2 separate regions of the Homo sapiens genome follow, and region 1 is linked to region 2. A link means that fine-mapping ties the variant in region 2 to the expression of a gene that starts in the linked region. Tissue or cell type: whole blood. Region 2 holds a variant in brackets; the other region holds the start of a gene. All regions are shown on one strand. Distances are from middle to middle.

Evidence for each region. PIP is the estimated chance that this variant, and not a neighbour inherited with it, causes the effect.
Region 1: it holds the start of DMPK, and the variant in region 2 is fine-mapped to the expression of DMPK in whole blood (TOPMed, PIP 0.97).

The regions. Positions count from the first base shown.
Region 1 is chr19:45,780,338-45,785,454 of GRCh38, reverse strand. It overlaps DMPK (DM1 protein kinase), which reads left to right and starts at 2,965. Exons shown (of 15, transcript NM_004409.5): 1 at 2,965-3,262. The coding sequence starts at 3,103. It overlaps DMWD (DM1 locus, WD repeat containing), which reads left to right. Exons shown (of 5, transcript NM_004943.2): 4 at 740-814; 5 at 1,165-2,508. The coding sequence ends at 1,212.
Region 2 is chr19:45,747,537-45,752,724 of GRCh38, reverse strand. It overlaps MEIOSIN (meiosis initiator), which reads right to left. Exons shown (of 15, transcript NM_001310124.2): 5 at 1,939-2,050. Among named protein-coding and RNA genes, the nearest start is that of MEIOSIN, 17 kb to the right of the region's middle. RefSeq lists an enhancer at 4,356-5,148. The variant A/C (reference allele first, on the strand shown) is at 2,217.

The sequences.
Region 1 (5,117 bases), 33 kb before region 2:
TCTCAGTACAAGACCTCTCAGATCCTTAGAGTGAGGGGGTCTAGCCCTAGGCAGCAGGCAGCAGAAAGAGGGGTGGGTGTGAGAGCCAGCTAGGAATTGGGGCATCCAAGGCTGGCCGTCTGAAGGGCAGCAGATGGGCCCCACATGGCCAGGTCTTACTGCCTGTCACTCGAACCAGAATCTATTTCTGTTGAACATCTGTTTTTTAAATCGTGAAACTTTTTTGAGTACTTCAGGCCAAAACTAGGGGCGAGCTCAAGCCTGTGGGCATGGCTGCCAGCCTGGGTCTGGGACTCAGGATCTGAGCCTCCTGCTGAAGGCACAGGCTGGGAATCCCAGGCCTGGGTTCCAGTCCCACTCCCTCTGTGACCCTGGACAAGTCACTGCCCCCTCTGACCTCCAACTCATCACCTCTTAGAACAGAGCCTGTAGGATGGGCAGTGGGTGGATGTGCTTGCCTCCTGGGTGGGCTGTGGCGTTGGGAAGGTCATAGTAGGCGAATCAGGCCTGGCATCTTGTAAGTTCGGAGCTCGTCTTGGGTGTCTCAGCTTCTTAGGGCTTGGACTCAGTTGCCCAGGGTCCTGGAGGCCGTGGCTTGGTTCCTCAGATCCTCAGTTTTGGAATCGTAGAGTCCTGAGTCCCTAGAACTTGAGAGCACAGTCTGAGTGACTCAGAGGCAAGAGTGGTGGGATTTGGGGAGTCTGGTTGAGTCCTAAAAGAGACCCCTCTGTCTCCGTAGTTCACAGACGAGGAGACCGAGGCCCAGACAGGGGAAGGAAGTTGGCCCAGGTCACCCAGCAAGTCAGTGGTAGAGGTAGGACTGTCCCTGAGTTCTTTCCCCAGCACCTCAGGGTCCCTCCCAAGTTAGAAGGGAGCTCCAGTTTCCCCCTCCCCTCCCACCCTTACCCTTACCCCATGGTCTCACTCAGGATCCGCCAAGGACTTTGATTATTGCGTGAAAGTGCTGACTGCCAGGACAGGAAGCTAGCTAAGATGCAAGTTCCCAGCCTAGAGCAGTGGCCTCTGGGGGGTCTAGGGCGGACCCAAGGGCAAGGCCAGGGTGGCAGCAGCTTTGGGGACTCTGGGCTGGCTCCCTCCCCTTGACACTGGCTGAAGCCCAGGTGGTCTCTAACCCCTCCCATCTCTCCCTCTCATCTTCCCCAGGGCATCTCCTCCCAACCAGGCAACTCCCCGAGTGGCACAGTGGTGTGAAGCCATGGATATCGGGCCCCCCCAACCCCATGCCCCCAGCCTCCTAGCCATAACCCTCCCTGCTGACCTCACAGATCAACGTATTAACAAGACTAACCATGATGGATGGACTGCTCCAGTCCCCCCACCTGCACAAAATTTGGGGGCCCCCCAGACTGGCCCGGACACGGGCGATGTAATAGCCCTTGTGGCCTCAGCCTTGTCCCCCACCCACTGCCAAGTACAATGACCTCTTCCTCTGAAACATCAGTGTTACCCTCATCCCTGTCCCCAGCATGTGACTGGTCACTCCTGGGGAGAGACTCCCCGCCCCTGCCACAAGAGCCCCAGGTCTGCAGTGTGCCCCTCAGTTGAGTGGGCAGGGCCGGGGGTGGTCCAGCCCTCGCCCGGCCCCCACCCCAGCTGCCCTTGCTATTGTCTGTGCTTTTGAAGAGTGTTAAATTATGGAAGCCCCTCAGGTTCCTCCCTGTCCCGCAGGACCTCTTATTTATACTAAAGTTCCCTGTTTTCTCAGCGGGTCTGTCCCCTTCGGAGGAGATGATGTAGAGGACCTGTGTGTGTACTCTGTGGTTCTAGGCAGTCCGCTTTCCCCAGAGGAGGAGTGCAGGCCTGCTCCCAGCCCAGCGCCTCCCACCCCTTTTCATAGCAGGAAAAGCCGGAGCCCAGGGAGGGAACGGACCTGCGAGTCACACAACTGGTGACCCACACCAGCGGCTGGAGCAGGACCCTCTTGGGGAGAAGAGCATCCTGCCCGCAGCCAGGGCCCCTCATCAAAGTCCTCGGTGTTTTTTAAATTATCAGAACTGCCCAGGACCACGTTTCCCAGGCCCTGCCCAGCTGGGACTCCTCGGTCCTTGCCTCCTAGTTTCTCAGGCCTGGCCCTCTCAAGGCCCAGGCACCCCAGGCCGGTTGGAGGCCCCGACTTCCACTCTGGAGAACCGTCCACCCTGGAAAGAAGAGCTCAGATTCCTCTTGGCTCTCGGAGCCGCAGGGAGTGTGTCTTCCCGCGCCACCCTCCACCCCCCGAAATGTTTCTGTTTCTAATCCCAGCCTGGGCAGGAATGTGGCTCCCCGGCCAGGGGCCAAGGAGCTATTTTGGGGTCTCGTTTGCCCAGGGAGGGCTTGGCTCCACCACTTTCCTCCCCCAGCCTTTGGGCAGCAGGTCACCCCTGTTCAGGCTCTGAGGGTGCCCCCTCCTGGTCCTGTCCTCACCACCCCTTCCCCACCTCCTGGGAAAAAAAAAAAAAAAAAAAAAAAAAGCTGGTATAAAGCAGAGAGCCTGAGGGCTAAATTTAACTGTCCGAGTCGGAATCCATCTCTGAGTCACCCAAGAAGCTGCCCTGGCCTCCCGTCCCCTTCCCAGGCCTCAACCCCTTTCTCCCACCCAGCCCCAACCCCCAGCCCTCACCCCCTAGCCCCCAGTTCTGGAGCTTGTCGGGAGCAAGGGGGTGGTTGCTACTGGGTCACTCAGCCTCAATTGGCCCTGTTTCAGCAATGGGCAGGTTCTTCTTGAAATTCATCACACCTGTGGCTTCCTCTGTGCTCTACCTTTTTATTGGGGTGACAGTGTGACAGCTGAGATTCTCCATGCATTCCCCCTACTCTAGCACTGAAGGGTTCTGAAGGGCCCTGGAAGGAGGGAGCTTGGGGGGCTGGCTTGTGAGGGGTTAAGGCTGGGAGGCGGGAGGGGGGCTGGACCAAGGGGTGGGGAGAAGGGGAGGAGGCCTCGGCCGGCCGCAGAGAGAAGTGGCCAGAGAGGCCCAGGGGACAGCCAGGGACAGGCAGACATGCAGCCAGGGCTCCAGGGCCTGGACAGGGGCTGCCAGGCCCTGTGACAGGAGGACCCCGAGCCCCCGGCCCGGGGAGGGGCCATGGTGCTGCCTGTCCAACATGTCAGCCGAGGTGCGGCTGAGGCGGCTCCAGCAGCTGGTGTTGGACCCGGGCTTCCTGGGGCTGGAGCCCCTGCTCGACCTTCTCCTGGGCGTCCACCAGGAGCTGGGCGCCTCCGAACTGGCCCAGGACAAGTACGTGGCCGACTTCTTGCAGTGGGGTGAGTGCCTACCCTCGGGGCTCCTGCAGATGGGGTGGGGGTGGGGCAGGAGACAGGTCTGGGCACAGAGGCCTGGCTGTTGGGGGGGCAGGATGGCAGGATGGGCATGGGGAGATCCTCCCATCCTGGGGCTCAGAGTGTGGACCTGGGCCCTGGGGCAACATTTCTCTGTCCTATGCCACCACTCTGGAGGGGCAGAGTAAGGTCAGCAGAGGCTAGGGTGGCTGTGACTCAGAGCCATGGCTTAGGAGTCACAGCAGGCTAGGCTGCCAACAGCCTCCCATGGCCTCTCTGCACCCCGCCTCAGGGTCAGGGTCAGGGTCATGCTGGGAGCTCCCTCTCCTAGGACCCTCCCCCCAAAAGTGGGCTCTATGGCCCTCTCCCCTGGTTTCCTGTGGCCTGGGGCAAGCCAGGAGGGCCAGCATGGGGCAGCTGCCAGGGGCGCAGCCGACAGGCAGGTGTTCGGCGCCAGCCTCTCCAGCTGCCCCAACAGGTGCCCAGGCACTGGGAGGGCGGTGACTCACGCGGGCCCTGTGGGAGAACCAGCTTTGCAGACAGGCGCCACCAGTGCCCCCTCCTCTGCGATCCAGGAGGGACAACTTTGGGTTCTTCTGGGTGTGTCTCCTTCTTTTGTAGGTTCTGCACCCACCCCCACCCCCAGCCCCAAAGTCTCGGTTCCTATGAGCCGTGTGGGTCAGCCACCATTCCCGCCACCCCGGGTCCCTGCGTCCTTTAGTTCTCCTGGCCCAGGGCCTCCAACCTTCCAGCTGTCCCACAAAACCCCTTCTTGCAAGGGCTTTCCAGGGCCTGGGGCCAGGGCTGGAAGGAGGATGCTTCCGCTTCTGCCAGCTGCCTTGTCTGCCCACCTCCTCCCCAAGCCCAGGACTCGGGCTCACTGGTCACTGGTTTCTTTCATTCCCAGCACCCTGCCCCTCTGGCCCTCATATGTCTGGCCCTCAGTGACTGGTGTTTGGTTTTTGGCCTGTGTGTAACAAACTGTGTGTGACACTTGTTTCCTGTTTCTCCGCCTTCCCCTGCTTCCTCTTGTGTCCATCTCTTTCTGACCCAGGCCTGGTTCCTTTCCCTCCTCCTCCCATTTCACAGATGGGAAGGTGGAGGCCAAGAAGGGCCAGGCCATTCAGCCTCTGGAAAAACCTTCTCCCAACCTCCCACAGCCCCTAATGACTCTCCTGGCCTCCCTTTAGTAGAGGATGAAGTTGGGTTGGCAGGGTAAACTGAGACCGGGTGGGGTAGGGGTCTGGCGCTCCCGGGAGGAGCACTCCTTTTGTGGCCCGAGCTGCATCTCGCGGCCCCTCCCCTGCCAGGCCTGGGGCGGGGGAGGGGGCCAGGGTTCCTGCTGCCTTAAAAGGGCTCAATGTCTTGGCTCTCTCCTCCCTCCCCCGTCCTCAGCCCTGGCTGGTTCGTCCCTGCTGGCCCACTCTCCCGGAACCCCCCGGAACCCCTCTCTTTCCTCCAGAACCCACTGTCTCCTCTCCTTCCCTCCCCTCCCATACCCATCCCTCTCTCCATCCTGCCTCCACTTCTTCCACCCCCGGGAGTCCAGGCCTCCCTGTCCCCACAGTCCCTGAGCCACAAGCCTCCACCCCAGCTGGTCCCCCACCCAGGCTGCCCAGTTTAACATTCCTAGTCATAGGACCTTGACTTCTGAGAGGCCTGATTGTCATCTGTAAATAAGGGGTAGGACTAAAGCACTCCTCCTGGAGGACTGAGAGATGGGCTGGACCGGAGCACTTGAGTCTGGGATATGTGACCATGCTACCTTTGTCTCCCTGTCCTGTTCCTTCCCCCAGCCCCAAATCCAGGGTTTTCCAAAGTGTGGTTCAAGAACCACCTG
Region 2 (5,188 bases):
AAACAGGACCACATTAGCTTTTCCCTTCGGTATTTGTCCTGACGATTAAATGTGAGTTAATACATAGAAACAAGTCAGGCTTGGTGGCCCACTCCTATAATCCCAGCACTTTGGGAGGCCAAGGCGGGAGAATTGCTTAAGCCCAGGGGTTTAAGACCAGCTTGGGCAACACAGTGAGACTCTGTCTCTACAAAAAAACAAACAAAAATATTAGCCAGAGCCAGGCACGATGGCTCACATCTGTCATCCCAGCACTTTAGGAGGCTGAGATGGGTGGATCACTTGAGGTGATACCAGCTTGGCGACCACGGCAAAATCCTGTCTCTACTAAAAATATAAAAATTAGCTGGGTGTGGTGGCGGGCGCCTGTAGTCCCAGCTACTTGGGAGGCTGAGGCAGGAGAATGGCTTGAACCTGGGAGGCAGAGCTTGCAGTGAGCTGAGATCACGCCACTGCACTCTAGTCTGGGCGACAGAGAGAAACTCCATCTCAAAAAAAAGAAAATTATCTGGATATTGGTGGCACGTGCCTGTAGTACAAGCTGCTTAGAAGTCTGCGGCAGGAGGATTGCTTGACCCCTGGAGTTTTGAGTCCTGGGATTTTGAGGTTACAGTGAGCCATGATCATGCCACTGCATTCCAGCCTGGGTGACAGAGTGAGACCTTGTCTCAAAAAAAAAAAAAAAAAAAAACGGCTAGGAGCAGGGGCTCACAGCTGTAATCCCAGCACTTTGGGAGGCCAAGGTGGGTGGATCACCTGAGGTCAGGAGTTTGAGACCAGCCTGGCCAATATGGTGAAACACCGTCTCTACTAAAAATACAAAAAAATTAGCTGGGTGTGGTGGTGAGTGCCTGTAATCCTACCTACTCGGGAGGCTGAGGCAGGAGAATCACTTGAACTTGGAAGGCAGAGGTTGCGGTGAGCCAAGATCACGCCACTGCACTCCAGCCTGCGCAACAAGAGCTAAACTCTGCCTCAAAAAAAAAAAAAGAAAGAAAGAAACATACCACAGCACCTGGAACATAGCAGTCCCCTAAGGCTAGATGTGCTGGGTGCTGTCGCTGTTACTGTAGTGTAAAATATACTGGCAGAGGCCCGGGAGGCAGAGGTCGCAGTGAGCAGAGATCACGCCACTGCACTCCAGCCTGGGTGACAGAGTGATACTCCGTCTCAAAAAACACACAAAAAACAAAAAACAAAACAAAACAAAAAGCACAAATAAATAAATAAAATACGCTGGCAGAATGGTAGGAGATGAGGCTGGGGAGGTTTGGCAGGGACTAGGAAGGCAGGGATGAGATCCCAAATGGTTTCCAGCACCTGGCTATGGAGGGAAGTGAAGAAGATGAAAATTACTGAGGGATTTTATGCCAGGGGAAGGTCATGATCAGATTTATTTTATTTTATGTATATATTATTATTATTATTATTATTATTATTATTATTATTATTTGAGACACAGTCTTGCTCTGTTGCCCAGGCTAGGGTGCAGTGGCGTGATCTCGGCTCACAGCAACCTCCGCCTCCCAGGTTCAAGTGATTCTCCTGCCTCAACCTCCCAAGTAGCTGGGATTACAGGCGCCAGCCACCACACCAGCTAATTTTTGTATTTTTAGTAGAGACGGGGTTTTGCCATGTTGGCCAGGCTGGTCTCGAACTCCTGACCTCAAGCGATCCGCCCGCCTCGGCCTCCCAAAGTGCCGGGAGTACAGGCATCAGCCACTGTGCCCGGCCTGTTTCTTCTGCCTGGCTGGGCTTCCCTGCATCTCCTACAGTCCTGAAGGCCCAGCTCCAAGGCCCCTCTTCTCTGAGGCATCTTGCATATCTCTCTTTGTCCCCTATACCAGGCCTTGACAGAAGGGTCACTCAGTATCCCTGATGGCTGGAACAACACTTGGAACATCACAGGCACCAGGAAACACTGGCTGAACTACTTACCCGCAAGTCCACCTTCCCCAGTGGTGATGTGGCATTTGAACAAGGCCTTGGCGGCATCGATGTTTCTCTGGAGGTACTGAATGTACTGCAGGACATGCACCAGAATCTCCTTCTGCCTCAAAAGAAAGACAGGGTTGGCCAGGCTCACGCCTGTAATCACAGCACTTTGAGAAGCCGAGGTGGGCGGATCATGAGGTCAGGAGTTCGAGACCAGCCTGGCCAGCATGGTGAAACCCCGTCTCTACTAAAAATACAAAAAATTAGCTGGGTGTGGTGGC[A/C]CATGCCTGTAATGCCAGCTACTTGAGAGGCTGAGGCAGGAGAATTGCTTGAACCCGTGAGGCGGAGGTTGCAGTGAGCCAAGATCACGCCGTTGCACTCCAGCCTGGGCAACATAGCGAGACTCTGTCTCAAAAAAAAAAAAAAAAAGAAAAAGAAAAAGAAAGAAAGAAAGACAGGGTTGAGCACAACAGCCAGGGCTCAAGACAATGTGGGGCTGCTGGGGACCAGAGACACAGCCTGAAGCAAAGGTTGCAGTGAGCTGAGATCATGCCACTGCACTCCAGCCTGTAGCTGTAGCCCCTGTCTCACTGGTCTGCAGTGAGGGCTAGATAGCAGAACAAGAAGGTCTCTGCCGACTGAAGAATTGTTGGGGTGGGTGGGGAATGGGGTCCTTCCTGGAGCCTCTGTGTCTCTGGTCCCCAGCAGCCCCACGTTGTCTTGAGCCCTGGCTGTTGTGCTCAACCCTGTCTTTCTTTCTTTTTCTTTTTCTTTTTTTTTTTTTTTGAGACAGAGTCTTGCTATGTTGCCCAGGCTGGAGTGCAATGGCACGATCTCAGCTCACTGCAACTTCTGCCTGCCAGGTTCAAGCAATTCTCCTGCCTCAGCCTCCTGAGTAGCTGGGACTAGAGGTGCGTGCCACCAGGCCCAGCTAATGTTTTGTATTTTTAGTAGAGACGGGGTTTCACCATGCTGGCTAGGCTGGTCACGAACTCCTGACCTTGTGATCTGCCCGCCTTGGTCTCCCAAAGTTCTGGGATTCCAGGTGTGAGCCACCACGCCCGGCCAATAGTCTTTTTTTGTTTTTTTTTTTTGCGCTTTTTTTTTTTTTTTTTTTTGAGACAGAATCTTGTTCTGTCGCCCAGGATGGAGTGCAGTGGCGCAATCTTGGCTCACTGCAAGCTCCGCCTCCCGGGTTCATGCCATTCTCCTGCCTCAGCGAGTAGCTGGGACTACAGGCGCCCTCCACCACGCCTCGCTAATTTTTTTGTATTTTTTAGTAGAGACGGGGTTTCACCATGTTAGCCAGAATGGTCTCAATCTCCTGACTTCATGATCCGCCCACCTCAGCCTCCCAAAATGCTGGGATTACAGGCGTGAGCCACTGCGCTCGGCCTTTTTTTTTTTTTTTTTTTTGAGACAGGGTCTCTTGCTCTGTTGGCCAGGCTGGAGTTTAGTGGTACCATCTCAGCTCACTTCAACCTCCACCTCCTAGGCTCGAGCAATCCTCCTGTCTCAGCCCCACAAGTAGCTGGGACTACAGGCGCATGCCACCATGCCCAGCTAATTTTTTGTATTTTTTATCGAGATGAGGTTTCGCCATGTTGTTCAGGCTGGTCTCAAACTCCTGGGCTCAAGTGATCCACCCGCCTTGGCCTCCCAAAGTGCTGGGATTACAGGCATGAGCCACCACACCTGGCCTCAGTCTTTTTTTTTTTTTTGAGAGGGAGTCTCGGTCTGTTGCCCAGTCTGAAGTGCAGTGGTACGATCTCAGCTCACTGCAGCCTCTGACTCCCAGGTTCAAGCGATTCTCCCACCTCAACCTCCTGAGTAGCAGGGGCTACAGGAATGTGCCACCACGCTTGGCTAATTTTTGTATTTTTAGTAGAGACAAGGTTTCACCATGTTGGCCAGGTTGGTCTCGAACTACCGACCTCAAGTGATCCACCCACCTCGGCCTCCCAAAGTGCTGGGATTACATGTGTGAGCCACTGCACCCAGCCAGCCTCAGTCTTTTTAAGCTTATTATCTCTAATACCAGGCTTGGAGCATATGGTTGGCACTCGCTAAGAAAAAGTCCTTATAAACCATGAAGTAATATATAAATGTTACTTATTATTACTAGTATAAAGGTTGTATGTAGAAAGCAATTGGGCATCATCCCAGATTTCAAGACAGATGCCTCAGTAATTGAAACTTCAGGAAGGTTAGCTTGGGGGCTACACCAGAGTCTGGACTCTCAAAGACCTTCTGAAGGTAAGATCAACAGGTCCTGTAACTGTCCCAACAAAGGGAGCTCATTCAGTCATTCAACAAACATCTATTGAACCTTGAGTGACAGAATGGTTGAAGGCAAGAGCCTTTGGAGTGAGATACATCTGACTCTATTTCTTTTAAGATGGGGTCTCATGGCCAGGCGCGGTGGCTCACGCCTGTAATCCCAGCACTTTCAGAGCCCGAGGCGGGTGGATCACGAAGTCAGGAGATCGAGGTCATCCTGGCTAACACGGTGAAACCCTGTCTTTACTAAAAATACAAAAACTAATTGGCCGGGCGTGGTGGCGGGCACCTGTAGTCCCAGCCACTCAGGAGGCTGAGGCAGGAGAATGGCGTGAACCCAGGAGGCAGAGCTTGCAGTGAGCCGAGATGGTGCCACTGCACTCCAGCCTGGGGTACAGAGCGGGACTCCGTCTCAAAAAAAAAAAAAAGACAGGGTCTTACTCTGTTGCTCAGGCTGGAGTGCAGTGGTATGATCTCGACTCATTGCAACCTCCACTTCCCAGGCTCAAGCTATCCTCCTGCTTCAGCCTCCTGGGTAGCGGGGACCATGGCTGGCTAATTTTTGTATTTTTTGTAGAGATGGACTTTCGTCACATTGCCCAGGCTGGTCTCGAACTCCTAATCTCAAGCAATCTGCCTGCTTCAGCCTCCCAAAGTGCTGGTATTACAGGTGTGAGCCACTGTGCCTGGCCACATCTGAATCCCTCCCTCTCTCTTTCTCTCTGTCTCTCTTTCTATCTCAACTCTGTGCCTGTGGGCGATGTGACCATTCTCTGCACTTCAGTTTCCTCAGACCAAAGAATGAGCATAGCCATACATCTCTCACAAGCCTTGTGGGAGAGTTAAATGAGAAAAATGTATCTAAGACACTTAGCACTCAAGGTCTGACACCTGGAACGCTCAGTAAGTTGGGAACGGTTGTTACTGCTGTCTGCTGTCTGCTCTCTGCTCTTGCTAGGCCCTGTGGGCAAGG